Homo sapiens: one gene and its partners. The protein of the gene in region 1 interacts with the protein of each later gene in a biochemical or structural test. Each region holds a gene or a part of one and is shown in the gene's direction. Other genes may lie near its edges. The genes, in order: MAGI3, IQSEC2, PTPN18, PRR16, NCBP2L, ARHGAP17 and KIF17.

What was found.
Region 2: the proteins of MAGI3 (region 1) and IQSEC2 interact in a test that uses a peptide from one of them, tested with the Homo sapiens proteins (one large-scale study listed by IntAct).
Region 3: the proteins of MAGI3 (region 1) and PTPN18 interact in a test that uses a peptide from one of them, tested with the Homo sapiens proteins (one large-scale study listed by IntAct).
Region 4: the proteins of MAGI3 (region 1) and PRR16 interact in a test that uses a peptide from one of them, tested with the Homo sapiens proteins (one large-scale study listed by IntAct).
Region 5: the proteins of MAGI3 (region 1) and NCBP2L interact in a test that uses a peptide from one of them, tested with the Homo sapiens proteins (one large-scale study listed by IntAct).
Region 6: the proteins of MAGI3 (region 1) and ARHGAP17 interact in a test that uses a peptide from one of them, tested with the Homo sapiens proteins (one large-scale study listed by IntAct).
Region 7: the proteins of MAGI3 (region 1) and KIF17 interact in a test that uses a peptide from one of them, tested with the Homo sapiens proteins (one large-scale study listed by IntAct).

What each region holds. Positions count from the first base shown.
Region 1 is NC_000001.11:113,638,036-113,642,449, forward strand, and holds part of MAGI3 (membrane-associated guanylate kinase, WW and PDZ domain-containing protein 3), read left to right. Parts: intron 1-3,875; coding exon 3,876-4,414.
Region 2 is NC_000023.11:53,237,195-53,241,608, reverse strand, and holds part of IQSEC2 (IQ motif and SEC7 domain-containing protein 2), read left to right. Parts: intron 1-2,314; coding exon 2,315-2,414; intron 2,415-3,302; coding exon 3,303-3,464; intron 3,465-4,092; coding exon of another isoform or gene 4,093-4,112; exon of another isoform or gene 4,113-4,414. UniProt on the Homo sapiens protein: Is a guanine nucleotide exchange factor for the ARF GTP-binding proteins.
Region 3 is NC_000002.12:130,369,001-130,373,414, forward strand, and holds part of PTPN18 (tyrosine-protein phosphatase non-receptor type 18), read left to right. Parts: intron 1-132; coding exon 133-201; intron 202-764; coding exon 765-827; intron 828-1,047; coding exon 1,048-1,190; intron 1,191-1,556; coding exon 1,557-1,623; intron 1,624-1,704; coding exon 1,705-1,782; intron 1,783-1,874; coding exon 1,875-1,964; intron 1,965-2,198; coding exon 2,199-2,287; intron 2,288-3,256; coding exon 3,257-3,483; intron 3,484-3,872; coding exon 3,873-3,947; intron 3,948-4,156; coding exon 4,157-4,224; 3' UTR 4,225-4,414. UniProt on the Homo sapiens protein: Differentially dephosphorylate autophosphorylated tyrosine kinases which are known to be overexpressed in tumor tissues.
Region 4 is NC_000005.10:120,470,451-120,474,864, forward strand, and holds part of PRR16 (protein Largen), read left to right. Parts: intron 1-4,414. UniProt on the Homo sapiens protein: Regulator of cell size that promotes cell size increase independently of mTOR and Hippo signaling pathways. Acts by stimulating the translation of specific mRNAs, including those encoding proteins affecting mitochondrial functions.
Region 5 is NC_000023.11:107,790,647-107,795,060, forward strand, and holds part of NCBP2L (nuclear cap-binding protein subunit 2-like), read left to right. Parts: intron 1-3,502; 5' UTR 3,503-3,574; coding exon 3,575-4,036; 3' UTR 4,037-4,414.
Region 6 is NC_000016.10:25,008,545-25,012,442, reverse strand, and holds part of ARHGAP17 (rho GTPase-activating protein 17), read left to right. Parts: intron 1-3,898. UniProt on the Homo sapiens protein: Rho GTPase-activating protein involved in the maintenance of tight junction by regulating the activity of CDC42, thereby playing a central role in apical polarity of epithelial cells.
Region 7 is NC_000001.11:20,711,508-20,715,007, reverse strand, and holds part of KIF17 (kinesin-like protein KIF17), read left to right. Parts: intron 1-1,452; coding exon 1,453-1,554; intron 1,555-3,500. UniProt on the Homo sapiens protein: Dendrite-specific motor protein which, in association with the Apba1-containing complex (LIN-10-LIN-2-LIN-7 complex), transports vesicles containing N-methyl-D-aspartate (NMDA) receptor subunit NR2B along microtubules.

The sequences.
Region 1 (4,414 bases):
TCTGCATTCCTCACGTAGTTCTCGAGCCTTGGCTTTCAGCTCCATCAGCTCCTTTAAGCACTTCTCTGTATTGGTTATTCTAGTTATACATTCGTCTAAATTTTTTTCAAAGTTTTTAACTTCTTTGCCTTTGATTTGAATTTCTTCCTGTAGCTCGGAGTAGTTTGATCGTCTGAAGCCTTCTTCTCTCAACTCGTCAAAGTCATTCTCCATCCAGCTTTGTTCCGTTGCTGGTGAGGAACTGCGTTCCTTTGGAAGAGGAGAGGCGCTCTGCTTTTTAGAGTTTCCAGTTTTTCTGCTCTGTTCTTTCCCCCTCTTTGTGGTTTTATCTTCTTTTGTTCTTTGATGATGGTGATGTACAGATGGGTTTTTGGTGTGGATGTCCTTTCTGTTTGTTAGTTTTCCTTCTAACAGACAGGACCCTCAGCTGCAAGTCTGTTGGAGTTTGCTAGAGGTCCACTCCCTACCCTGTTTGCCCGGGTACCAGCAGCGGTAGCTGCACAGCAGCGGATTTTCGTGAACCGTGAATGCTGCTGTCTGATCGTTCCTCTGGAAGTTTTTTCTCAGAGGAGTACCCGGTCATGTGAGGTGTCAGTCTGCCCCTACTGGGGGGTGCCTCCCAGTTAGGCTGCTCAGGGGTCAGGGGTCAGGGACCCACTTGAGGAGGCAGTCTGCCTGTTCTCAGATCTCCAGCTGCGTGCTAGGAGAACCACTGCTCTCCTCAAAGCTGTCAGACAGGGACATTTAAGTCTGCAGAGGTTACTGCTGTCTTTTTGTTTGTCTGTGCCCCGCCCCCAGAGGTGGAGCCTACAGAGGCAGGCAGGCCTCCTTGAGCTGTGGTGGGCTCCACCCAGTTCGAGCTTCCCGGCTGCTTTGTTTACCTAAGCAAGCCTGGGCAATGGCGGGCGCCCCTCCCCCAGCCTCACTGCCGCCTTGCAGTTTGATCTCAGACTGCTGTGCTAGCAATCAGTGAGACTCCGTGGGCGTAGGACCCTCCGAGCCAGGTGCGGCATATAATCTCCTGGTGCGCCGTTTTTTAAGCCCATCAGAAAAGCGCAGTATTCGGGTGGGAGTGACCCAATTTTCCAGGTGCCGTCTGTCACCCCTTTCTTTGACTAGGAAAGGGAACTCCCTGACCCCTTGCACTTCCCGAGTGAGGCAATGCCTCGCCCTGCTTCAGCTCGCACACGGTGCGCTGCACCCACTATCCTGCACCCACTGTCTGGCACTCCCTAGTGAGATGAACCCGGTACCTCAGATGGAAATGCAGAAATCACCCATCTTCTGCGTCGCTCACGCTGGGAACTGTAGACCGGAGCTGTTCCTATTCGGCCATCTCGGCTCCCACCTGTTTAGTTTTTTTGTTTGTTTGTTCGTTTGTTTGAGACCAAATCTCACTCTTGTCATCCAGGCTGGAGTGCGATGGCAGAATCTCGGCTCATTGCAACCTCCGCCTCCTGCGTTCAAGTGATTCTCCTGCCTCAGCTTCCTAAGTACCTGGGATTACAGGCGCACGCCACCATGCCTGGCTAATTTTTTTTCTTTTTTTGAGATGGAGTTTTACTCTTGTTGCCCAGGCTGGAGTGCAGTGCTGCGACCTCGGCTTACTGCAACCTCTGCCTCCTGGGTTCAAGCAATTCTCCTGCCTCAGCCTCCTGAGTAGCTGGGATTATAGCACATACCACCACACCCAGCTAATTTTTTGTATTTTTAGTGGAGACAGGGTTTCATCATGTTGGCCAGGCTGGTCTTGAACTCCTGACCTCAGGTGATCCACCTGCCTCAGCCTCCCAAAGTGCGGGGATTACAGGCGTGAGCCACCGCGTCTGGCCTAATTTTTTTGTATTTTAGTAGAGATGGGGTTTCGCCATGTTAGCCAGGCTGGTGTCGAATTCCTGACCTCAGGTGTACTGGGATTACAGGCATGAGCCGCTGCGCCTGGCCTGAGCCACCACGCCCAGCCAGTGGCTTCTTAAACTCAAGAAATAAGGTGGTATTTAAAGATAGACTGACCCTGTCAAAAAGTGGACAAAGGATATGAACAGATACTTCTCAAAAAAAGACAATTATGTGGCTAACAAGCATATGAAAAAAAGCTCAACATCGCTGATTATTAAAGAAATGCAAATCAAAATGACAGTGAGATATCATCTTACGCCAGTCAGAATGGTGATTATTAAAAAATCAAGAAACAATAGATGCTGGCAAGGCTGTGGAGAAACAGGAACGCTTTTACACTATTGGTGGGAGTATAAATTAGTTCAATTAATGTGGAAGACAGTGTAGCAATTCCTTAAGGATCTTGAACCAGAAATACCATTTGATCCAGCAATCCCATTACTGGATATATACCCAAAGGAATATAAATCATTCTACTATAAAGACACATGCACACGTATGTTTATTGCAGCACTATTTACAATAGCAAAGACAGGAACCAACCCAAATGCCCATCAATGATAGATTGCATAAGGAAAATGTGGTATATATACACTATGGAATACTATGCAGCCATAAAAAGGAATGAGATCATGTCCTTTGCAGGGACATAGATGAAGCTGGAAGCCATCATCCTCAGTAAACTAACACAGAAACGGAAAACCAAACGCTGCATGTTCTTATAAGTGGGAGTTGAACAATGAGAACACATGGACACAGGGCCGTGAACAACAAACACCAGGGCCAGTCGGGGGTTGGGGGACGAGGAGAGGGAGAGCATTAGGACAAATAACTAATGCATGTGGGGCTTAAAACCTAGATGACGGGTTGATAGGTGTAGCAAACCACCATGGCACACTTATACCTATGTAACAAATCTACATATTCTGCACTTGCATCCTGGAACTTAAAGTAAAATTTAAATATATATATATTTATATATGATATATTTTATATATCATATATATAAATATATATAATATTAAATATATATATGATATATAATATATATACACTATATATGATATATATAATATATATGATATATAATATATATGATATATATAATATATATGATATATTATATATGATATATATAATATATATGAGATATATATTATATATATGATATATAAATATATATGAGATATATATTATATATATGATATATAAATATATATGAGATATATATAAATCTATATATATATCAGGGGTGGAGGAGGATTTCTGGCTATAGGGGCTATAGGAACTTGACAGGATTCTTGCTGAATGCAGGCTGAGGTGATCAGGTAATCACCTGGAGAATGGTGGGGAATGAGGACTTAGATCATATATCAAGAGTGGGTGATTCTGGCTAAACCAACTTAGCAGGATTCCTGCTAAAGCTGGGCTCTGGAGGACATGCCAAGGATGAGGCCTACTGAAAAAAGAGCTCAGAGGAACCTGTCTAGAGTTTGGTTAAGGACAGCGTCTTTTTCAGTGTATGTATATATACATACATACAGATATATAAATAAAATTAATTTATTCAAAAAATATAATACAGTTTGTACAAGTAGTCAGTGGAGTTATTTGCTTCTGTACTAAATACCTACTGCAATGTGCCTAGCTTTGCATGGATACTTAGATATGACTCAGAGGGTATACTAACAATGATAATATAAATTATCAGGGTTTTTTTTTTAATGATTCACTTGAGCTTGAAGTCAAAATTCTTTGCTACTGAAATAAGTAGGATTTTAGACATTTATACATACATTTTAGAGAGGAGTTAGAAAAGGGAGAAGGTCTGTGTTAGAAATCTATCTTTTCAGCAGTTAATAGAGGTTTCCAAAATTCAAATTTAGTTGCTAAATTGTAGTTATTTTTGCCCCTCTAGCAAAAAAATTAACTTATTTGTTGATTTTAATATTTTTAACATGATTATGTTTTTCCAGGCGATGTTATTGTAGACATCAATGGCAACTGTGTCCTCGGTCACACTCATGCAGATGTTGTCCAGATGTTTCAATTGGTACCTGTCAATCAGTATGTAAACCTCACTTTATGTCGTGGTTATCCACTTCCTGATGACAGTGAAGATCCTGTTGTGGACATTGTTGCTGCTACCCCTGTCATCAATGGACAGTCATTAACCAAGGGAGAGACTTGCATGAATCCTCAGGATTTTAAGCCAGGAGCAATGGTTCTGGAGCAGAATGGAAAATCGGGACACACTTTGACTGGTGATGGTCTCAATGGACCATCAGATGCAAGTGAGCAGAGAGTATCCATGGCATCGTCAGGCAGCTCCCAGCCTGAACTAGTGACTATCCCTTTGATTAAGGGCCCTAAAGGGTTTGGGTTTGCAATTGCTGACAGCCCTACTGGACAGAAGGTGAAAATGATACTGGATAGTCAGTGGTGTCAAGGCCTTCAGAAAGGAGATATAATTAAGGAAATATACCATCAAAATGTGCAGAATTTAACACATCTC
Region 2 (4,414 bases), on another chromosome or scaffold:
TCACAGATGCATTTGGAGGTAGTAACAGACACACAGGGACAGAAAATATGAGGACCAAAGGAGATGACAGACTTACAACCTGGGAAGTGGTAGGAAATATCCCTGTCCACCTCAATAGCCCATAGGGTTGTGTGAAGAGGGGTGAACCTGCGACCCCCCAGGTCAGTCTGGAAATCTTCAGTAATCAAGATGCTTGAAGTGGGCTCGGCACTGTGGCTCACACCTATAGTCCCAGAACTTTGGGAGGCCAGGGCAGTTTGAATCACTTGAGCCCAGGAGTTTTGAGACCAGCTTGGGCAACATGTCGAAACCCTGTCTCCACAAAAAATACAAAAATTAGCCGGGCATGGTGGTGTGCACCTGTAGTCCCAGCTACTTGGGAGGCTGAGTCGGGAGGATCACTTGAGCCCAGGAGGCAGAGGTTGCAGTGTGCTGTGATCGCACCACTGCATTCCAACCTGGGCAACAGAGCCAGACCCTGCCTCAAAAATAAATAAATAAATAATAAAAACAAAATTTAAAAAAGATGCTTGGGCCAGGCACGGTGGCTCATGCCTGTAATCCCAGCACTTTGGGAGGCCGAGGTGGGTGGATCACCTGAGGTCAGGAGTTCAAGACCAGCCTGGCCAACATGGAGAAACCTCGTCTCTACTAAAAATATAAGAAATTAGCTGGGCGCAGTGGCGCATGCCTGTAGTCCCAGCTACTGGGGAGGCCAAGGCAGGAGAATCGCTTGAACCCAGGAGGCGGAGGTTGCAGTGAGCTGAGATCGCTCCATTGCACTCCAGCCTGGGCGACAAGTGAAACTCTGTCTCAAAAAAAAAAAAAAAAAAAGATGCTTGAAGTGATTCTTCAAACTGAGCTCATTACAAGTAGAGATGTTTGTCTTTTAGGGATGGGACTCTTAGGACTTTGCAGGTTGGAAGGGACTTTCAGGGTCCAGCTTCCTAGATGGCCCACTGGATGTATGACTGCAGGGACAGAAAGCCGCCTTCCTCTAAGGCAGCCAGTTGCCTTGTTAGGCAGCTCTGACTGCTAGAATTTGTCTCCCTGTGGGTTTCTTCCAGCCATCTGCACTCAACCCTTGGCATCACAAAGAACAAGTGTTGTACCTCTGCTCCAAGACAGCTCTCCAGGGATTTGAGGACTCTCTTGATCCTGTTCTCCCTGTGGTCTTCTCTCCTTTAGAGCAGGGTTTCTCAGTCTCATCACTGTTGACATTTGGGGCTGGATAATTCTTTGCGGGGACTGTCCTGTGCACTGTAGGATGTTTAGCAGCACCCTGGTCTCTACCTACTAGGTGCTAGTAGCAACCCTTCAACCAAAAATGTCTCCAGATGTTGCTCCGTGTCCTCTGGGGGCAATATCACCCCCAGTTGAGCATTGCTGCTTTAGCCGAAGTATTTCCATGCTCCCTCTGAGCCTTAGTTTCCTCCTCTGTGAAATGGAACTAACCCCTACTTCACAGGATTGTCATGAGGATGAAATGAAATAAGAGGTTATATGTGGAATCTGCCCTACCCCAGGGAGTACCTGGCCCACACAGTCAATGTGTAGACATCCCTCAGGTACTGAAACTGGTGTATGTCCAGCTCTATGCTAGGCACTGGGTATGCCAGGATGAATCAGACTTAGTCCCTGTTCTCAGGGAGCTCACAGCCCAAAGGACCTAAAAAAGTGCTTTGCGTCATTGTGCCATCCTGAAATCAAAACATTTCCTTTTACGAGCCACTTGCAGACCGCCTGAGGTGTTTGCAGCCTGTGTTAGTTGAGTCCAGAGTGCCCAAGTACTCGACAAAGATATTGGGTTGTTGAGAGGAAGACTTATTAACTCTCTACATGGGTTCAGCAGAGATTGCCATTAAGTGCAGGCTCTGGTAAGGCCTGGTGACAGAACCCGACAACCAGACTCCTGCCCTCCAGTCCAGCAGGGGGCGATCACACACTCAGAGGACTAGCATAGTGCCTGACAAGGGAAAGGCACTGAATCACCATTCTGGAGCTCAGAAAAGGGGTTTACAAATCTCTGTGGGATGTTGGAGCAGGCTTCCTGGAGGAAGCAGGATTCAGTTAGTTTCTGGAAATGTGGTAAATGTCTGTGGTGCGTGGTCATTACATCAGGAACTTGCGTTTTCTTCCATGTCTCCCATTCTGTCCCTCAAGCTTCCATTCTCCCCAGCTTGTGGGCATGTGTGTTTGTGTGTGTGTGTCTGTTAATGGGGTGGGAGGGGAGGGTGGTTACCAGAAATAGGTGCCACGTGGAAATCCCCCACCCAAAGCGCTGCCTCTTGTCTTTTTCCCACCCCTGCCAAAGGTCACCAAAATTTTCCAGAAGAAGAAGATCTTGGTGACGTACAGTTTCCGTCAGTCTTTCCCCCTCGTGGAAATGCACATGCAGCTCTTCCAGAATTCATGTGAGTCCCTTCTTGGATCCCAGCTCCTGAGAGTCTATGTCATGGCCCCCATGCTCACCCGTCATCTATACCAGCTCCAGTTTTCGGAGTCCCTTACAACCGGACTAAGGGTCTCCAAAGCACCTACTTGGTCCCAGGATGAGGGGCAGGCCAGGGTGGAGTATGACTTGGGTCTAGCCCCTGGTTAGCTCATGGTCTTGCAGAGAACCACAGTGCATGTGTTCTCTGGTGGGCCAAAGAGACGGTGATCATGCTGTGCTCTGAAGGATGAACCAGGAGGAGCTTTGTTGCGTGGTATTCCTGGCAGCAGAAGCAATGTGAGTTGAGGCAGAGGTGAGAAGGAAAGGGTTTCGAGAGAGCAGTGCATAGTTGTGTGCCTTTACATCCTGCAGTACAGGGAGTAAGAGGGCCACAGCTACCAGGAGTTTGAGGGCTTTGGGGCAAAGGGGAGCTGCTAAACATGCTCAAGCAGAGAAGAGGCATGATCAGAGTTAGACAGTAGAAAAATTATTTCATGGGCTAGGCATGGTGGCTCACACCTGTAATCCCAGCACTTTGGGAGGCCAAGGCAAGAGGATCGCTTGAGCCCAGGAATTCGAAACCAGCCTGGGCAACATAGTGAGACCCCATCTCTACTGAAAATAAAAAAAAATCTGCGCATGTGGTGCGTGCCCATGGTCCCAGCTACCCAGGAGGCTGAGGCAGAAGGATCACTTGAGCCCAGGAGTTCAAGGCTGCAGTGAGCCATGATGGCACCACTGCACTCCAGCCTGGGTGACAGAGAGATGTTGTCTCAGAAAAAAAAGAGCAGAAAAGAAAAATTATTTTATGTATGAGCCACCTTGCACCAGTCCCAACAGAGGTGCCCAGTCTCCCCTTTCTCCACAGATTACCAGTTTGGGATCAAGTTGCTGTCTGCAGTACCTGGTGGGGAGCGAAAAGTCCTCATCATCTTCAATGCCCCCAGCCTCCAGGACCGGCTGCGCTTTACATCCGACCTGCGCGAGTCCATTGCGGAGGTGCAGGAGATGGAGAAATACCGTGTGGAGTGTGAGTAGCCCAGCCATGTCTCCTCCCTGCTCTCCTGAAACAGTACCCTGCAGAAACCAAGAATCCTATCCTCAGAGAATCTCAGAGTTGAGGGTTAGCTTGTCCAACCTTCCCATCCTCATTTCAAGAATTCTTCAGCCTCTGCTTGAATACCTTCAGTGACAAGGGGCTCATTACCTCCCAACCCCATTATTATCCTGAACTCTAATTATGAGCCAACTATTCCTTCTAGTGAAAGGTATCAGGGAGAAGAATCAGAGTATTGGAGGTAGGACTATAGTTTTAGATCCCAGGTATACTACTCATTATCTGGGTGAACTGCAGCAAATTGCCTAACCTGCCAAGCCCCAGTTTCTTCCTATACGAAATTGGGGTAATGAAGTCTCCTTCACAGAGTCATGGAGATGAAATGAGACAAGGTAGCCGAAATGTCCCAACACATCTTAGGCATTCAAAAAATCCGTATTTCCTGTCCCACCCTCTCTCCTCCTCTGCCCACATATCAATTCCTGAGCTGAATCCCAGTGGGCTATCCTCTCAGCCCCCAGGGGCCACACCAAGTCATTTTGATCATATATATATAATGGAAAATAGTGATTACATCTCATTCCTCCCGATGCCCTCCAAGTTTTCTCTTCTCCAGGCTAAGCAGTCACAGTTAAGTAACATGGTGTTAAGGAGAAAGAGGCAGGCAGACAGAGACGAGGCGGCGGACAGCTCCTTGGTGAGGCCTTCACAGCTCCAGGGCCACTCTACTTCTCAGCGAGGCAGGGATAGAAATTTCAGTTCACCAGATCCTTTGAGACCCTGGGGAAATCCTGAGAGAGGGATTAGTAGCCCAAGACGAGGGGAGGCCAGTAGACACGTGTTTCTATGAGCTCCGTGGGGAGGTGGGGCTGTAGGAGGCCGGAAGCACCCAAGCTCTGGAATCAGGCAGACCTGCTTCCAGA
Region 3 (4,414 bases), on another chromosome or scaffold:
TGTTATAGGTTATAAGTATAGCTGCCTGTGCTTCCACCACGAGCACCTGGGGTGTCTTGTGGCATGATTGAGCTAGCTCTGAAGCTGACTCCCTCTTCTCACTCCCTGCCTTTTCTCCCTTACCTTTTGCAGAAAAGGTGTGAGCGGTACTGGGCCCAGGAGCAGGAGCCACTGCAGACTGGGCTTTTCTGCATCACTCTGGTGAGCTGTGGGAGTTTTCAAGGAAGATTCCCAGGGTGGAAAGGCTTTGGGTTGGGCCTAAAAGGTTGAATGATTTAACCCACAGTCCACTCATACTGCAGGAAACCCTCTGGTGTTAGCCTGCAAATAGTTAGAACTTACTATAGGGATAGCCTTTGCATTTTTATTTTGGCTACAATCAGTTAATCTCTGTCATGTAAATGTGCCTGGTTAGGTTGTTGAAATTCTTACTTCTCTTACCATTTCAAAAGAGCTTGGGGAACTCTCTCAAGTCATACATACAGTTAGTACTTAATAAATGCAATAAAAGTTTCATTTTAGAACAAAAGACATCTCTTTTCATTGCAAAAGGGCTTGTGTTTTTATAATAGTTCCTCTTTTGCTCCTGTGTCAAATGTTTCCTTAATGAAAGCTTTGGGGAAAGTTTGGGCTATATGAATTTTTAAAATGTTTTCTGTATTTGATTTTTTAATCAGGAATGCTTTGCTTTCTATAAATGTCTTCTGGTACCTATGATCTTTGTTCTCCTCCCTCTTCTTACTTGCCCCACCCCCCTTACTCAGATAAAGGAGAAGTGGCTGAATGAGGACATCATGCTCAGGACCCTCAAGGTCACATTCCAGAAGGTACTGTGACAGGGGAGGAGGAGGTAAAGGGGCTCCTGAAAGGGGAGAGGTTTCCTCTCCTGTAAAAATGGGCATCATACTAGTACCCACTTCCTCAGTTATTGTCTGGTAGACATAAATGGAAGATGCCTAGAAGTGGGCCTGGTGTATAGTAGATGGCCAATTAATGCTTTTTTCTTTTTTTTCCTAAGTCTTTTGCTCATCTTTTTCTGTGTTTCAGGAGTCCCGTTCTGTGTACCAGCTACAGTATATGTCCTGGCCAGACCGTGGGGTCCCCAGCAGTCCTGACCACATGCTCGCCATGGTGGAGGAAGCCCGTCGCCTCCAGGGATCTGGCCCTGAACCCCTCTGTGTCCACTGCAGGTTTTGGAAATGGGCTTCAGGAGGGTCTGGTGAGGCAGAGGGGACAGAGCATGGAGGGGAGTACAGGGCATGGGGCTAGTCTTGTAGTCTGAGTGCCTATTTTGAGAACCCTTGCTCACCCTCCATGGACTGTAATTGTGAGCACTTGTTCAGCACAGACTCAGCTGGGGAATAAGCACACAGCTCTTGCTCAACAAAATGTAAGTGATTAAAAAGGTTTTCCTTGTTCAGATATAATCTGAAGATTCTGGGAATCAAGAGGCTCTGCAGGGGATCCATCAGGACCCTCACCCCCATCCCCAAATGCCCCATCTAAAAGGGGTTGTGGTCAGGACCTGACCAGGCACACTCTGATTCTCTTGTCAGTGCGGGTTGTGGGCGAACAGGCGTCCTGTGCACCGTGGATTATGTGAGGCAGCTGCTCCTGACCCAGGTACGATACAGGCATCCTGTGTGTGCAGTGTGCTGCCCATGACCACGTGTCCTGCTCAAGTGCCTTGTCTGTCTGCCCCAGATGATCCCACCTGACTTCAGTCTCTTTGATGTGGTCCTTAAGATGAGGAAGCAGCGGCCTGCGGCCGTGCAGACAGAGGTGAACCCTGGGTCTCCTAATCTTCAGGGACAGTGGCCCACTGCTGTCATTTGCCCCTGCCTTCCCTTCTTGATGGTCCCTCACCCCAACAGGAGCAGTACAGGTTCCTGTACCACACGGTGGCTCAGATGTTCTGCTCCACACTCCAGAATGCCAGCCCCCACTACCAGAACATCAAAGAGGTACAGAGGCTCCTTTCCCACTCTCCTGTCCACCATCAGCACCCTCAGAGACCAGGACCCCGAGCAGGGTCCAGCCCCCGGGACTACTGGGAGCAGGCACTGACTATGACATCCACCTGTGCCCTCCTCCAGGCATCCTTATCAGGCTCTCCCATCTTAAGCTTTCTCCCAGAGCCCCTTGAGAGGCCTGGCCAGCTTCCTCCCTCAGGAGCCTCCCCTCCTGTTTTTCTTCAGAATTGTGCCCCACTCTACGACGATGCCCTCTTCCTCCGGACTCCCCAGGCACTTCTCGCCATACCCCGCCCACCAGGAGGGGTCCTCAGGTACCCGGCTCCATCCCCGGATTCTTCCCTGCCCAATTTCTCAGGCTAACCCCTTCTTCATCCTTGGAACACCAGTCCGTTCCTTGTTCACTTCGCCAAGTGTTCGCTGGCCCTTTCTTCGAATTGAGCTCTGGGAACCCACCCCAAGATGATTCAATTATCCCAAGATGATTCATTTACCCCTTGCCTCTGCCTCTAAGGCTTGCCCTGCCTTCTGAGTTAGGCCTTTCCTGGATCCTCTAATCAAACCTTAATTCAGGTGGCTCACCCCTGTAATCCCAGCACTTCGGGAGGCCAAGGAGGGCGGATCACTTGAGCCCAGCTGGAGACCAGCCTGGTTAACATGGTGAAACCCTGTCTCTACTAAAAATACAAAAATTAGCCAGGCGTGCTGGTGAGAGCCTGTAATCCCAGCTACTCCGGAGGCTGAGGCAGGAGAGTCGCTTGAGCCCGGGAGGTGGAGGTTGCAGTAAGCCGAGATCGCACCACGGCAGTCCAGCCTGGGCGACAGAGCGAGATCCTGTCTCAAAAAAACAACAAAAAAAATTCAGCAAATAATTCTAGACGCCGCCTTCTTGTCAGGCCGCACGTTGGGTGCTGCGGACATGGGATTGAGCCGCCTTCGCAGCGGAGACTTAAGGCCCTTGTCCTTGCGGCCATCCCTTCCTGTCTTCTATGCCACTTCCGCATTCTTTTGTTCAGTAGACGTTGACACAGAAATGACCACCCCTCAAACCAACACTCTGCCCCAAATTACCCTCCAGGCTGACCCCGTTCCTCCTTCATCCCCCTAACTTGCAGGGCGCTAGGGACACAGAAGCGAGGCCTCCAACCCAAGGAGCCCTCCCTCCCATCTAGCGCACCGCCTCGGCGGGAAGGAAGCCCGTGGTTTGCGCGCTGAGCAGCCTCCCCACTCCCGCCCTGCCCAGCGCCGCCGTTTCACTTCCTCCCGGCCCTCCCTGCCTGCAGGAGCATCTCTGTGCCCGGGTCCCCGGGCCACGCCATGGCTGACACCTACGCGGTGGTGCAGAAGCGCGGGGCTCCAGCGGGCGCCGGGAGTGGGACGCAGACGGGGACGGGGACGGGGACGGGGGCGCGCAGCGCGGAGGAGGCGCCGCTCTACAGCAAGGTGACGCCGCGCGCCCAGCGACCCGGGGCGCACGCGGAGGACGCGAGGGGGACGCTGCCTGGCCGCGGTGAGTCGAGGCTTGCTCCTTCTCAGGGCATCATCCTGCTGTGATCCGCAGGGCGGAACCATCCTGCAGTGGTCCGTCAGGCCCTGGCGGCCGCGGGGACCCCAGCCGCTAGCCTGGCCACGCCCCGACGCTGATGTCCAGGCGTCCCTGGCCACGCCCCGGAAGCGCCCCCTGGCGGTCGCAGTCGCGGTCCAGGGGCAGGGTTCCTGGCAATACTTGTCTTGGCCGCGCCCAAAGGCTGGAGGCCACGTCCGGGGTGTGTGCCTTCTCCCGCCCGGCGCCCTCGGCTCTCCCCTTCGGGCCTCCGGGGAAGCGTCCCCGCTAGGGGTGGGGTCTTGGGACTCCCTGGGGCTTCCGGAGCTGACCCGTGGGGGGTCTGCTGCCCTCAGTTCCTGCTGACCAAAGTCCTGCCGGATCTGGCGCCTACGAGGACGTGGCGGGTGGAGCTCAGACCGGTGGGCTAGGTAAGTCAGGTAGAGCCTGGGTTGCTGGGACTTTGCTGCTTTGAGTGAACCCAGGAGTCTGGGGTTGATGGGGCATGGAGCTTAGTCCTGTGGATGTGGCTGCAGTGAACCAGGAGGACCTGGAGGCGGGGGGATGGCCTTCTTCATGTCTGCCAGCTTCCACACACCTCAGCTTCTCCATGAGACCCACGGCACCCTTCTTCTCCCAGGTTTCAACCTGCGCATTGGGAGGCCGAAGGGTCCCCGGGACCCGCCTGCTGAGTGGACCCGGGTGTAAGTCTAACGCCAGTTCCTGCCTGTTGCCTCTTGTGAGCTCGGACTGCTGATGCCCCGGTGCTGCTGAGCGCCGTGCGCAGAATGGAAACAGTGGGCCTGGATCAAAGTTAAAGTTTCTCAGGGTGGGAAATGTGGGGGCTTTGCCCCAATGACTGTAGCATTCAAGGCTTGAGGCTGGAGGAGGTAGCTAG
Region 4 (4,414 bases), on another chromosome or scaffold:
CATATTTTAACATAGATGAAGTTATACAAAGTTATAAATTATAAGCAATGACATTTTCTACTTTCTTGAATGATATAGATCGTAACTATTACACAGATTTGCTATAAGTTACTTCATACTTCCCTTAATATTGGGTATTCTATTTATTTCCAGCTTTTCATGGTTATTAAACGTCACTAGAAAGAGCAGTTTTGGCAATATGAATATCTAACAGAGGTCTTACTCTCTGCCAGGTACTCTTCTCAGCGCATTTATTTATATTAAATTATCTAATTCTCAAAACAGGTAGATGAGGAAGTTACTGATATTGCCCATTTTACACATAAGAAATCTGAGGTCCGAGATAGTAAGTCATTTGCCCAACTCACTTGTCTTGTAAGTGGAGAAGTGAAGCTTCATTGCCAGGTAGCTTGGTGTCAAAGAACAGCATTAACCGCCAAGCTCTTTCACGTTTCCTATTTTTTTTTTAACATTTTCTTAGAAGTCAAGGATCTAAAAGCTTTAAAATTCTCAATTCATATTGCCAAACTGTCTTCCAGGGAGTTTTCACAAATTTTTGCTTGCAGCAGCAGCGTATGTATGGACACTGTTTCTTAAATTGGGAGTGAAGCTAATAAACCATTTCATTATTTCATTAAGGCTTGCTGTGTAGTTTATTATCTTCATGGTAACAGTCATTATTTTTGTAGGTTGCAGAAAACAGTATTGAGACAAAATTAATAGTGAATAAATTAGACCTTGCAATTTAAAATTTGCAAATAAAGATGTGCTGTGATTAATTACCTTTAACTTATTCAACAAAAATGTTGATAAGAATATTACATAGATTTTTAATATTCTGGCTGAGAAAATAAAGGAACAACTAATATGGAAGCTCGTTGATACTTAGCATTGTATATAATTGTTTCAAAGAATACAAATAATTTGGAATATATTATTCTCTTTTGTTGCTATCAAATTACCTTAGAAGAGAGGCACTATCCTTAAGTTTTCTGAGATGTTTGAGGTTTGACAGTTCTCTTGCTTTCTGCTATGACTGATGAATTAGAGAATCTTGTTGAATTCTTTACTAGGAACAACATTATTGAACTGGCTAATGATGTCATATGTATATATTATAATTCGATTTCTTGTATTAACTTTAGTGCTATCGATTATAAACCACCTCCTCTCTCCCACATATAAGGGTTATAAGAAATGGCCTTATTCTAAAATTGTTTGTTTTCTTTTCCAGTATGTTATGAATAGAAATGTTTTTATTGTATTAAAAGTTAGTTCATTAGGATAATTACTCTGAATTAAATTTCCCACAGGAACTGGGAACCCAAAGTCAGCAGAAATTCATCTTTAAACAAGAACCAGAAAGTAGCATTAACTGAAATGAGAAAATAAAGACATATCTAATATCCAAATCAAAGTAGACTCACAAGGTAGTCTGTCAACTCAGGACAAATGTTGTCTTGCTTATATGGGATAAGCTATTTATTTATTTAGAATGGAAAGACATGAGGATTCCAAAGAATTTAAACTCCCAGACCTCACTTTCAGGCAAGAAATATTAACACTGTTAGGACTGAATTTATATTCATCATCTTTGTTTTCTCTCTTTCTACTTTGCAAATGCTGCTTCAGATTGGTGTTTGAGATAAATGTTTACTTGTAGAATAATTGAAGTTAGGCAAATTACATACTTATGCTCAATGACACAGTTATCATGATGTTTGGGACACTATAAATAGATTTTCAACTACAGATAACATATGTTATCCTTGTCTGGAAAAAGAAAATTTGATGATTTCTGACAGGTTCTTTTTGTAGTACCACACAAATGTTAACAGATACATTGGTGTGCATTTTCCCCTTTCATAATATCACCTTATCTCAAGATTTCAAACTGTGTGTTTATATGAGAGAAAAATACTGGGTTAAACAATATCAGTCAAATCAATTGCCTTCTAGCATCAGTGGTTCTTAATAGTCTCCCTCCCCCCATATCACAAACCCCTTTGAAAAAAGGAAAAAAAGTTGGGATTATTTCTTCTGGAACAAAAGCTCACACAAACGTGGTTCCTGCACATGTTCAGGGAATCTTGGGTGGGTGGGAATGACTCAGGTAAAGAGACAAAACAAGTGGTTGATTGCCATTTTATTTTTTAGAAATTTTAGCTAATTGTTTGAGGTTTGGCTCCATAATTTTCAGAATTAAAAGTCCTGGCCCTACAAAAAGAAAAAAAAGAAATACTGATGGCTGTGGTTTGATGTTTTTTATGTAGGGGAAAAAAATGAGTGGCATATCAACAGTTTCTTTCTCTTAGGATGTGATGTCAGTGTGAAAATAGGTGGTATATTTATAATTCACGACTTTGCAAAAGCTGTAGAATGCTTGTGTGTCTGAAAGTTAACTCTTTCATTTTGTCGTTTCTTATGATGTTTGCCATAGTATATCAGTAAATAGATGGACAAAAAGTTTTCAGAACTCATTGTAAATTAAGCATATTCTCTTCTTAAAACTGATTGCAGATCAGCATTTTTATTTGTTTTATTTTTTTCTTATGTCACATTAACATGAATTATGAAAGACATATTGAATTCTTGATATGTGTAAGTCACTGTGCTGAAGAAAGTAAAAGATGCATATATGAATAAGCTTAGTGATCTGCCCTTGAAGTAACTATTTTCTGTTTACTTTTGATGACAGTGATAACACTGTAGGCTATTATGAATTGACATAACTTTGTAATTTTAAAGCCCAAATATCAGAGGTATATTTATGTTTATCCAATTATATATAGAATGAAGTATAAATTTGATTGCCTCTTTATTGCATAGCTCAATGTTTTTGATAAATATTTGGGGTTATCTTTTGTTTTAAAGAATAGGAGAATTTTTAGTCTGTGTTGCTCAGTAAGGTGGCATAGTATAGAAGGGTGAGAGCACAAACTCTGAAGCCAGTCTGCTTTTTTTCAAATTGCTCTGCTGTGCAATATTGAGCACATTATTTAATTTCTCTCTGTTTTCATTTTCTCCATAGTGTGGCGATAGTGACAGTGTTATGTGCAGTATAGGTTGGTTATGAAGATTAAATGAGTTCTTTGTAGAACGTTTAGAATGGTTCCTATGCATAAAGCAAGCATTGTATGTGTGTCTGTCATTAGTGTTATTATTTGAATTTGTCTGAGCCCCTTTATTCATTTATTCAACAAGTAGTGTTTAACACCTACTGTACACCAGGCACTGTTCTAGTTTCTAGGGATATAGTGGGGAACAAAACAGACAAAATTCCTTCATGGAGTTTACATAGTGGATGGGGAGGGTAGGGAGAAGATAGCTCAGTAAAATAAACACTAGTTTACATCAAATATTAGAAGGTGATTTATCTTATGAAGTAATAGAAGATTATAATGGGATGAATAGTGATGAGGAGGAAGTGCAATTTTAAATAGGATTGTTCAGAATAAGCCTCACTGAGAAAGTGGCATGGTGGCATTGGGGAAAATGCTTGAAGGTGAAGGAGCAAGCAGTAAGGAAATCTAGGGGAGCATTTTCCCAAGTAGGGAATAGCAGCCCAAGGGCCTTATAGTGGACAAGTTTCCCATGCATTTGCAGCAGAACAAGGGCCCAGGGTGGCAGGAGTGGACGAGCAGGGCAAGAGTAGCAGTGATAAGGTCAGATAGATATGGGGGACATGTCTAAGGATTTTGATTCTTCCTTAGAGTAAAATGGGACTTCTGAGCAGGGAGGTGACTAAATCTGCTATACTTTCATCTTTTTACCTTTAATCACTGGCTCAGGGTTTCTCAAACTCTGCACTATTGACATATTGAGTGGATAATTCTTTGTTGGGGGGATTGTCCTGTGCATTGTAGGATGGTTGGCAGCATCTACAACTAGATGCCAGTAGCAACCAAAATGTTAATGTGACAATGGAAAATGTTTCTAGATGATGCCACATGTCCTCTTCCTACTTTGCAATAGTAGAACTAGGAACCCAAAGGACTACTTTGAGAACTACTGCTCTTGCTCTTCCATCTTATTCCATATTACTTAATATTGTTTTTGCTACCTACCTTTTTCTTTCTTTATGCTTAGCCATCAAACATTCAGACTTCATGTCTCTTTTGTGTCTTGTATTTGCTATCTTTTTTTTAAAAAAAAAACCCATTATCTGTATTTTTCTTTACATTTACCTCATTCTTTTTCCCTTAATTCAACCTACTTTAAAAATATGCCTTCCAATTTCCATCCACCACTTCCATTTTTTTGCTTTCCATTTTGTTTTCACAATGAAATAAAAGTTAAATTGGTATTTTTTAAGGGATTTGGGTAAATATGTGTGTTTTAGGATTTGGGAGAAAAAAAGGAGAAACTCAGAAAGAATGAAGGGAGCAGTTGAGGCTGAGCTGCTTGTCTTCTT
Region 5 (4,414 bases), on another chromosome or scaffold:
CAAATCTTTATTCAGCTTTCAAAATTGGACTCAGACTATGTCTGGGTAGATACACAAGAAACTAGTGACAATGATTGGGTGGCTGGGGCACAGGAGTGGGAAGAAGACTTCCTTTTTCCACCTATTTGTACATTCTGCATTTTGTAACACAAATCTGAATTCACTATTCAAAAAAGTAAATACTACGTAAATTTTTTGTTAAAAAAGCTCAGGAATCAGGTCCTTTAGAAAGTTGTTTTCCCCTCCTCATCCTCCTCTGTAGTTTTGTACTCCCTTCTTTGTGCTACCTCTGGGCCTACTGTGTGCTCCTGTGATTAGAATAATTACATTGCATTGCAATTTGTATGTTAAGTTGTCCATCTCCCCAGATTGTGAGCTACCTGAGGGAAAGGGCTGCATCTTACTTTTTATTGTTTCCCCAGAATTTAACATAGTGCTCTATAAATGTTGATTGAATGAATGGAGAAACAAGTGAAGAGAAGAATAAAGTAGAGGATGCCCCACATTATAAAACAAAGCTCCCATGCCAGTTATCTTTCCCAATATCCATCAATCTGTCCTTTTGCCACGTGTTGAGCTTGAAAGTAATACTTTACATTTATACTTTTTTTTTTTTCTGAGACAGGGTCTCACTCTGTCACCCAGGCTGGAGTGCAATGGCACAATTATGGCTCACTTCAGCCTCGATCTCCTGGGCTCTAGATCCTCCTACCTCAGCCTTCCAAGTAGCTGGGACTATAGTCACATGCCACCACGCCATGCTAATATTTGTAATCTGTTGTAAAGATGAGGTTTCACCATGTTGCCCAGGCTGGTCTTGAACTCCTGGGATTAAGCAATCCACCTGCCTCGGCCTCCCAAAGTGCTGGGATTGCAGGCGTGAGCCACTGCACCCGGCCTTACATTTATTCTTAAGTACTATCCATCAATTATCTTGTCAATTTGGGCTCAGCATCATGTAAGACTGCCCAGATCATTTCAAAGTCCCTCTTATTTTTGTGTTATGTGTAGATTTGATATGTATTTGTATATCCTATTTTGAATCACTTGATCAGAATATTGATACAATACCTATTGCTTATTGAACACCTACAGTGTGTCAAACACTGTGCTGGGTGTTTTTACATATGACATTGTCACAGTATTTGTTGCAAGATAGGTATTTTGCTCTCCAGTTTACAGATGAGAAGATTGAAATCAGTATTGTTAAGTGCCCTGCCTAGGGTCATATTGCTAGTAAATGGTGAAGTTGAGATTTGAACCAAGGTCTTTTGACTTCAAAATTCATGCTTGAGTCATAACACTACATTGATTCAAAGGGGCATCTCCACTGCTTCACTACTGGGTGCCTAGCTCAAGGCAGCCCATTGTCTTTGGACTGCTCTGACCATTTTAAAAGCTCTTGTTTGTAGTGAGCCAAGTTATAAATGAGCCAAACAAGACATGGCCAATAACAGAGCCTTTGGCTCTCTGCTAGAACCTTCCTTCCAGTCTGACACCAAACCATGTGTTCGCTTCTTTGGCTATAGTTGTTCAACTAGTTATAGGCTCATCTCAACAAATGCCTGAAGCATCCAGCTTATATTTTGCCATCTCATCTACAAGGAAATTATGGCAAACTTTGTCCAATGCCTGGATGAAATGAAATCCACTATAGCTATCACATTCTCTGGTAGCTTATCTAGTAACCAGATCAAAAAAAAAAAAAAAGGAAATGAAGTCTAGGAGGGATATTTGTTTTTTAACGGGGCAATTTGTCAATGACTTAAAGTAATGAGTTTCCAGTGGTATACTTTCAGACATCCTTGACAGGCTGTCAGGAAGATGATTTTTGGCCAGTGGGCTTCCTACTTCTCTTCAAATGACATCTAAATAGGGACTCCCATTTTCATTGCTTTGAATTGCACAGCACTGTTGTTTACATCTGGTTTTATTTAATCTTCCATTTCAGTTTTCTGGGCTTTTATTTTTTCTTTGTGTTCTGCCCTTGCACATGTTCCCTCTGCCTGGTTCATTCCCTAAACTCCTACACCCCCCAGCCCTGCAACACACACATATACATACCTTCCTTGTCCTTTGAGAATCAGTGCATGCAGTCCCTTCTCCAGAAGCCTTCTCTGTTGTCCCCAGGCTGAGGTAACTGCTTCTCCTCTTGGGTGTTGTAGTGGCAAGTGAGCACAGTGCCTGTCACAAAGTAGATCCCCAATAAATGTTAACTCCCTTCTCCCCTTCCTCCATGAATATCTCTAAAATAGTATTGATTACACCATATTGTATTTTCATGTTTACTTGTTTGCCTTCATCACTCAATTATGAGCTCATTCATTCATCCAGTCATTAACAAATATTTATTGTGTGTCTAAGGTGTACAAGGCATTGTTCATGTAGGTACTGGGGACACAGTGATTTCTGAAAATTGTATTTTCACTGTGTCTTTTCATTGTTGTACTTATAGCACCTGTCATAGTGTCTGGCAAGTAGAGTGCTTATTAAATGTTTGTTAAGGGAATGCACTTCCTTAGCAGAGTTTCTCAAAGTGTAATCTTTGGACCATTTGCATCTGGATCATTGAGGGGTGTAGGTTAAAATGTTAATTCTTGGGTCCCTCTCCAAACCTACTGAATCAGAATATCTTAAGAGTGGGCTGCAAGAATCTGTATTTTAATCTCGTTTTGCGGTGTTTCTATCATGCTAAAATTTGGGAACCTCTGCGAAACAGAATAGAAATAGGGAGACCCAGTGCCTCCCTATATATGCCTCCCTATAATAACATTGAAAAGTGTAGCTAAAACCGACTAAATCGTGTTTAATGCCTCCGAATGCTGCAGTAAATTTTAGTAAAAGAGAAAAAGGAATTAATTAAAATTGTCTAGAAAGGTTAATTACTATTTACCTTTTGAACAAGTGGAATTATTGCCAATAAAATCTAATCTTAATTTAGGTCAAATTTATGATACCAGAGAGTTTTCATTTCTAAAGTGCTACTTGTATATTTGATGGTATATAGGGACCCATTGTGTAACCCAACAATACAATATATTGATTCCATGTTATAGACTTGAATTGCAAATTAAGAAAGAGTATGTCCAAACTGTACTTGTGCTTTAACATTGATTATATATGTGATTTATCTGATGCTTAGTCCTTAATCAGAATTGTTAGTGCTCATTCTCTGTGCAAATTTGATCCATTTAACTGTTTTATGCCATATTTTCCAAGAACATGCTGTTATTAAAAGTGCTCTTTGGTAATAGATCAGGCATATAAGATCTAAGTCTCAACCAAAGACAGCACAACTTCCCTTTCAGGAAGACTTGACAAATTGGATTTTATGACCATGTTTTGGGGATTGGAGCTGTCTATTTTTAGTGTGCCTTGACATGATCCTTATGGTCAGGAGCTGAAGTGTTCTTGTATCTGAACACAAATATGTTAAATATTCACAGGTTTATACTTCTGTTTCCCTCCTTTTGACTTCCCTCTTTTTTTCAACTCAACTTAGGTTTTCAGTGGTGGTGTCACTGCTGCCAAGCTGGACCGAAAACGGCCATCGGCATGCTGCCCAACCAGCACCATGTCCAAAGACCTGAAAATTCTATGTAAAGACCCTGCTTTGGAGCTGAGCTGCTACCGGGACCATCAGTTCAGTGGCCGTAAATTTCAGCAGGAAAAATTACTGAAGGAAAGCTCCACATTGAATATGGGGAATCTTTCCTTTTATACAACCGAAGAGAAAATACATGAACTCTTTAGTAGATCTGATATCAGGAATATCTTTATGGGCCTGGATAAAATAAAGAAAACAGCATGTGGTTTTTGCTTTGTAGAATGCCATAACAGAGCTGATGCTGAAAATGCCATGCGGTTTCTAACTGGGACCTGCCTAGATGAATGGATTATCTGCACTGATTGGGATGTCGGTTTTAGAGAGGGTCAACAGTATGGTCGCGGTAAATCTGGGGGTCAGGTAAGGGATGAGTTTCGTGAAGATTTTCATTCTGGTAGAGGAGGCTTTGGAAGACAGACTCAGATCTAGAACAATCCATAGAGAAAAAGTTTTAACTCTAACCCCTTGAAAAGTGTGTTATAGACCAACCTCAAGTCTGCAAATAGCCAATTCCAAGTTTAAATTACCTTACTTGTTGATGTATTTTTTTCTCTGAAAATTTGTTAAATAGCAGAAACAAAAAAAATCCATTTGTTTTTGTCTGAATTTTGAAGATGCTTTTCAGATTACCAGTTTGACTGTTAGGTGGTCCAAAGTGAAGTGTTCTTCGGGAACAAATTAGGTATGTAAGATCAGAGTCAACCAAAGCACAACTTCCCTTTTAAGAAGATTTCTGTTGGATTCTATGGCCATGTTCCTGCAGCCCAAAATTATAATTTTTTTTAGAGCTTGCATAAAATACAGTCA
Region 6 (3,898 bases), on another chromosome or scaffold:
GTTTATCAATTTGTGGAATTCTAGGTGGTGTCTTGCAGTGAGATATTCTCCTCAGAAGGGAGACCTTTGAGTACTTTCACTGTAAGGTTCCAGGGGAGGGACTTGTAGAGAATTAGTAATGCCTGGAAGGAATGAGTTCGCATGATGCAGTTTGTTTACGATGGGTGGGTAAGTCTATTTGAGAAGACGGCCTGAAACTCACAGGGGCAAGGCTTATGAGGTGGTCTCATGGTGTGAGTGTCCCAAAGAAGAGAAGTAGGATGGTTCTTTTAGTCCACCTGCCTTTTGTTGATTCATGCATTCAACAGACACTTGTTGAGCCTACACTGTGTCCTGTTATCCAGGGTATTAAAGAATCAAAGGTGAATACGGGCATGGTTTCTGCCCTGAGGGAGCTCAGGAGATACGTGGAAGAGGTAGGCAGGCAAAAAATAATTATATACATGAGATAAGTGCTTAAGAGGGATGGCTAATGCACAGAGCAAAACCCAGCTGTCATTGGATTGAGGGAGGTAACAAAAGCTTCCCAGAGGAGAAAATCTGAGCACCTTTCTCTGCCTTCATTTTCAAGCCCTTATTTCAAATATCTCTTGTATTGATTAGGTCTCTTTTGGTTGTAAGAAAACCCAGTTCATAGCAAAGACGGGAATTGATTGGCTCATAAGTGACCAAAAGAGCCTCTAATAAGTAGTGTGGCTGCAGATTTGGCTTCTTCTGGGGGTTCCACTCTTTTTTTTTTTTTTTGAGACGGAGTCTGGCTCTGTCACCCAGGTTGGAGTGTAGTGGCGCGGCTCACTGCAGCCTCCACCTCCTAGGTTCAAGCAATTCTCCCGTCTCAGCCTCCCAAGTAGCTGGGACTACAGGCCTGTACCACCATGCCCGACTGATTTTTGTATTTTCAGTAGAGATGTGGTTTTGCCATGTTGGCCAGGCTGGTCTCAAACTCCTGCCCTCAGATGATCTGCCCACCTTGGCCTCCCAAAGTGCTGGGATTACAGGCATGAGCCACTGCGCCTGGCCTCGGTTCCACTCTTTAGGTAGGCACTGTGTCCACTGGGAGACTTCCACATCTTCCAAGTCTCAGAGGGAAAGAATACTCATCTCGCAGTCACTGTGGCCCGAGTCCCAGGATTGGCTCTGAATGCTTCTGGGTCACATGCCTTTCCCCAGAAATGGACTGGAGTCAGCGCACCCAAACCATATGGACTGAGAGTGGATGGTAATGGGTGGTAATCAGGCAAGAAATAAAGGTCATGGTGTGTCTTTTGTAGCCCTGCTAAAAAGAGAGATGTTTTGTTTCTTGAAAACCCTTAGATGCAGATCATCACCAATGGTGTTTTTGGGGAGATGATGTCTTGAGTAGAGGAAGGAGTACACTGGGATGAAGACCTTGAAGTTACAGAAGTATCAAGGAGAAAAAAAATTTGAGAGACAACTAGGAGAGCATAGTACTGAGGCTCTGATAGGGAGTGTCTCCTTGGGTGTTGATTTCTTCCCTGACTGAAGTTTCCCTTGGAGGTCTGAATGCTTTCACAGATAGTTGTTTTTTGAGAACCCAAGGTTGTAAACCCAAATGCCTAGAGGGCGAGGCCAGTAAAATGAATCAGTGCTTTGGGCCATGTGAAGGCCTCAGGGGACCTGGAGGACTGTGTCCCACCAAAGGGGCTGCTGTGGTAATGTAGGCCCAGTGTGGACCACCTGTGGAGTTTTCCTGAAATCTGCATTTTAACTAGCTGGCGTTTAATCCAAATTAAACTACGGGGACACTATATGCAGCTGAACAAAATATTTCTGTGGATCACCCAACTGCTTGTCTAGAAGGACTCAGAAATTGACAGTCCCTCTTTTTCATTTATTCCCCTGTACCTTACCCTGATGTTTTCAGTTCTTTGGATTTGTTGAAAAACAGCTCATCCTTTCTTTACTAAAATCTTGAAAAGGTCTGATAGTAACAGTCTATAACATTTCTATGGTGGTTTAGTTTACAAAGTGCTGTACTAAACCACCTGGCTTGGATTTCGTCTCCTGACAATGATAACTTCTCTCTGACAAAGATGGAAACCTGGCTGGGTGGGGTGGGGTGGCTCACGCCTGTAATCCTGACACTTTGAGAGCCCGAGGTAGGAGGATCACTTGAACCCAGGAATTTCAGACCAGCCTGAGCAACATGGTGAAACCCGGTCTTTACAAAAAATACAGAAAACTAGCCAGGAGTGGTGGTGTTTGCCTGTCTCAGCTGCTTGGGAGGCTGAGGTGGGAGGATCAACTGAGCCTGGAAAGTCGAGGCTGCAGTGAGCTGAGATCATGCCACTGCACTCCAGTCTGGGTGACAGAGCAAGACCCTGTCTCAAAAAAAAAAAGAAAAAAAAGAGGAAGAAACCTGACTTTCTAAGTTTGCACAGTTACTGAGTAGTGGCTGAGGCATGGCTTGGGTCCAGGGCCTCTTCCTGTGGTTCCCAAGTGCTTTTGAGTACAGGAACTGGGCTGCCTCTTCACCAGGGAAGGATTAGTGTTTATTAATGTTTATTAAACATCTTCTGTGCTTATGAAGCTGCTGGGCTTGGTGCTTTGCATACTTTTATTTCATTGCATTCTCATAGCCACCCTCTGAGGTGATGTTACTTATTTCTGATTTAATGATGAGGAAGCCAGAGATCAAAGAGGTCATCAAGCTCGCAAGAGACAGAGCCGTGGACCCAAACCCAGGTTTCTGATTCTGCAGCAGCTATAAATTCTGATCACAGAGATCTAATGACCTCTAGGAGTCTTCCACTCCTAGGAGGTATGTAGAATGGACCACTCACTAGGTAGTTGGATCCACTACCAGCAATGTGAATTCTCACACTGAGTCAAAATGTGTCTCTACCTACTGATCCCAGAACAGTCCCCTGCTGCCGAATTGAATGAATCTCATCTCTCTTCCCTGAGTCAGCCCTGCCTGTATTTGATGATCACAAACCTTATCCTTACGTTGCCAGCAGTAACATTCTGCATCCCTCACCCACTCCACTGTGTCCTTTTCCTCCCACTGATCTTCACTCTACCTTTCCTTCCCCCCACCCTTTTTTTTTTTTTTTTGACGGAGTCTCGCTCTGCCGCCCAGACTGGAGTGCAGTGGTACAATCTCGACTCACTGCAACCTCCACCTCCTGGGTTCAAGCGATTCTCCTTCCTCAGCCTCCCGAGTAGCTGGGCTTACAGGCATGAGCCACCAAGCCTGGCTAATTTTTGTATTTTTTAGTAGAGATGGAGTTTTGCCATGTTGGCCAGGCTGGTCTTGAACCCCTGACCTCAGGTGATCCACCCACCTTGGCCTCCCAAAGTGCTGGGGTTACAGGCGTGAGCCACCACGCCTGCCCACTCTGCCTTTTCTAGGGGAACTCTGAACAGTATTTCTGAGAAGGGATAGGTAATGTGTGCTTTGCTTCAATCTGAGTGGATTCCATCAACCTCTCCATAGAGCAGGGTGGAAAGAGGTCCTCTTGTCGTTGCAGCAGCTTCTCAATCTCATCTTTTATGGCCTTATTATGTAGTTTACATGTTAAGAAATCCAGAAGTATTTATAGTTGAGTGAAAATCCATTCTTTACTGGGGGGAAGAAATGAACTCTAAAACCATAAAAATGATGAACCAGTAGAAAATTTTCATCTGTAAATTTGAACCATAAAAGGATATGTTCATTTAGCATCATTTTTATATGTGTAAGCGGCATGTTACGCTATTATGGAATTGCCTTTGTAGCAGAGTGGACGAGGCAAAACCTTCCAAGTTTGATTATGGCCTAGGGCGCTGCAGTCAGTACGTGCACCGTGCATTTTTGTCAGACCACAGGATGTTTCACCTTTATCATTCTATTTCAGTTTCTCAAGTGTAGGTAGATGCTGTAGTAACTAGTGAA
Region 7 (3,500 bases), about 93 Mb from region 1:
AATTACCTGGCGACCATTTGTGGCAGTGCACGGGGAATGGCGGATGGGGACAACCCTGATCAGCTGCAGAACCCACTGTGCCACTCTCAGGACTCATCATGGTGGCCACAGCAACATGTAGGGCCTTGGAGAGCTGCCAGGGACCAGCCCAGAGCCAGTGCTTGGCCCAGGCCTTCCCTGTGGCCTCAGGTGTTTTTTTTTTTTTTTTTTTGAGACGGAGTCTTGCTCTGTCACCCAGGCTGGAGTACAATGGCATGACCTTGGCTCACTGCAACCTCTGCCTCCCAGATTCAAGCAATTCTCCTGCCTCAGCTTCCCGAGTAGCTGGGATTACAGGCGCCCATCACCACACCTGGCTAATTTTTGTACTTTTAGTAGAGATGGAGTTTCGCCATGTTGGCCAGGTTGGTCTTGAACTCCTGGTCTCAGGTGATTCATTGGCCTCGGCCTCCCAAAGTGTTGGGATTACAGGTGTCAGCCACCGCACTTTTTCTTTGTTTGTTTTTGTTTTTGTTTTTGAGACGGAGTCTTGCTCTTTCGCCCAGGCTGGAGTGCAATGGCGCGATCTTGGCTCACTGCAACCTCTGCCTCCCGGGTTCGAGCAATTCTCATGCCTCAGCCTCCTGAGTAGCTGGGATTACAGGTGTCCACCACCATGCGCAGCTAATTTTTTTTTTTTTTGAGACGGAGTCTCGCTCTGTTGTCCAGGCTGGAGTGCAGTGGCGTGATCTCAGCTCACTGCAAGCTCCGCCTCCTGGGTTCACGCCATTCTCCTGCCTCAGCCTCCTGAGTAGCTGGGACTACAGGCACCCACCACCATGCCTGGCTAATTTTTTGTATTTTTAGTAGCGACAGGGTTTCACCGTGTTAGCCAGGATGATCTCGATCTCCTGACCTTGTGATGTGCCTGCCTTGGCCTCCCAAAGTGCTGGGATTGCAGGCGTGAGCCACCGCGCTTGGCCTAGCTAATTTTTGTATTTTTAGTAGAGACGGGGGTTTCACCTTGTTGGTCAGGCTGGTCTCGAACTCCTGACCTCAGGTGATCCAACCACCTAGGCCTCCGAAAGTGCTGGGATTACAGGCATGAGCAGCGCCCCGCCCTGTTTTTTTTGTTTTGTTTTGTTTGTTTTTTGTTTGTTTTTGTTTTTGTTTTTAACCTGAATAACGAGGAGGCCTCTGTTTCCTTTCCCATGAGGCTTGTAGACAGAGCATTAGACAGCAATATGAAGATTATGCAACTCAAAGAGGCCTGAGCGCCCACCAAGCTGGAGACAGGAGAGAGCTTGCCAGGAAGGCCAGCAGGGCGGGTTGGGTTGGAGACTCCTCTTGCCCCGATGTCCCTTCTCCTCCCATGATGTCCTGGTGGCAGAGGGCCCAGGCCCCAGGGTCAGACCTGGCAGCAGGTGGACTTCGAGCTCTGAGGTCTAGGTTCTTTCTGTGTACTCCCTGCAGTGTGCAGAGAACACTAAGTTCCTGGTCCGGGCCTCCTACCTGGAGATCTACAATGAAGATGTCCGGGACCTCCTTGGGGCTGACACCAAGCAGAAGCTGGAGGTGGGTGCAGACCCATTGTGGGCAGGTGGGGCTGGTAGGGGGGAGGTTGGCATTGGTGCTGCTCCCTCAGAAATATGGGAAAGTGTCCTGAGGGTGCCGGCACTGGGAGGCTAGAGTCGGGACTTTTTTTTTTTTTTTTAATTAAAAAAAACTTTTTTAGGCAGGTGCAGTGGCTCTTGCCCGTAATCCTAACACTTTGGGAGGCCAAGGTGGGCAGATCACTTGAGGTCAGGAGTTCGAAACCAGCCTGGCCAACATGGTGAAAACCCATCTCTACTAAAAATACAAAAACTAGCTGGGCGTGGTGGTGCATGCCTACAGTCCCAGCTACTGGGGAGGCTAAGGCAGGAGAATCACTTGAACCCAGGAGGTAGAGGTTGCAGTGAGCTGAGATTGTGCCACTGCACTCCAGCCTGGGCAACACAGTGAGACTCCGTCTCAAAATATATATATCTATATTATATATAGTATCTATATATAGATAATATATATATAATATAGATAATATAGATAATATTATAGATAATATAGATATATTATATATATAATATAGATAATATTATCTATATTATATATAGATAATATCTATAATATAGATAATATTATCTATATCTATAATATAGATAATATCTATATTATATATATAGATATTATCTATTTATATATAGATATTATCTATATTATATATAGATATAATATAATTTTATATATATAATATATATAGATATAATATAATTTTATATATAGATAATATTATCTATATTATATATAGATAATATTATCTATATTATATATAGATAATATTATCTATATTATATATATAGATATTATCTATATTATATATATATAGATATATATAGATATATATATAGATAATATTATCTATATATATAATATAGATAATATCTATAATATAGATATATATATGACAAGGTCTCGCTGCGTTGCCCAAGCTGGCTTCGAACTCCTGGCCTTGAGCCTTCCACCTCAGCGCCCCCGGTAGCTGGGACTACAGGCATGCACCACCACATGCACCCAGCCACTTGGTGTTTTTTATGCAGGAGCCTCCAGCCTCCCACCTAGAGTTTTTCTACTGCGTTCCCTCTCCTAGTGCAGCTGAATCATAGCTCAGCCCCCAGACAGGGAAGCAGAGACAGGAGGCAACAGAGGGTGTTGCTCCCACATGTCAGCCCCAGAAGGCCAGCCTGTGGAGTTAGGGCACTCTGGCCCCCTGCAAACCTTCTGCTAACCCGCACTGGAGCAGCAGGGAGCCCTCCTCCCCTTCGTCACTACCCTGGACCCTAGAAAGGCCTCAGTTACCCGGGCCTAGAGGGGCCGAAGGCTGGCAGCTGCTCACACTTGCTGCAGCTGAGCCATGGGTCTCAGGCCTATTGAACCAGCTGCCTTGGGGGCTGCAGTGACAGATGCGCTTGCTGAAACACACTCCAGAGGTCACCGGGCTTTAGACACGCTCCCTCGTGGAGGATGTGCAGATGGCTCTCATGTAAACCTCCTGGCAGTCCAGGAGGAGGCACCGTTCCTATTCCTTGTAACAACAGATGAGGAAACTGAGGCTCCATGTGCCTAAGTAAGACCAACCCAAGGACACACAGTCAGTAAAGAGTGGCGATGGGATTTGAACCCGGGGGCTCCACAGCACACACTCTTAACCCGTGCTTAACACAGGCCCGATCGTGGTTGTAATCAGAGGTTATTACATCACCTAAGGCCAGCAAGAGGTTTGGGGAAGCAGAGTTCTATCCCCTCCCCCTAGCCACTGTAAACTACCATCACAGAACCCAGCCCTGAACTGCCTGATCTGGTGAGGCCTGAGGGGGCCTCTCCAGCGGGTTCTTCCCACCCATGTCCAGGCAAAGTGTCAAGGGCTCCCCTCCCCGTGGCAGCGATGGACACATTCCTGCCATGCTCCCCTCTCTCATCCTTGC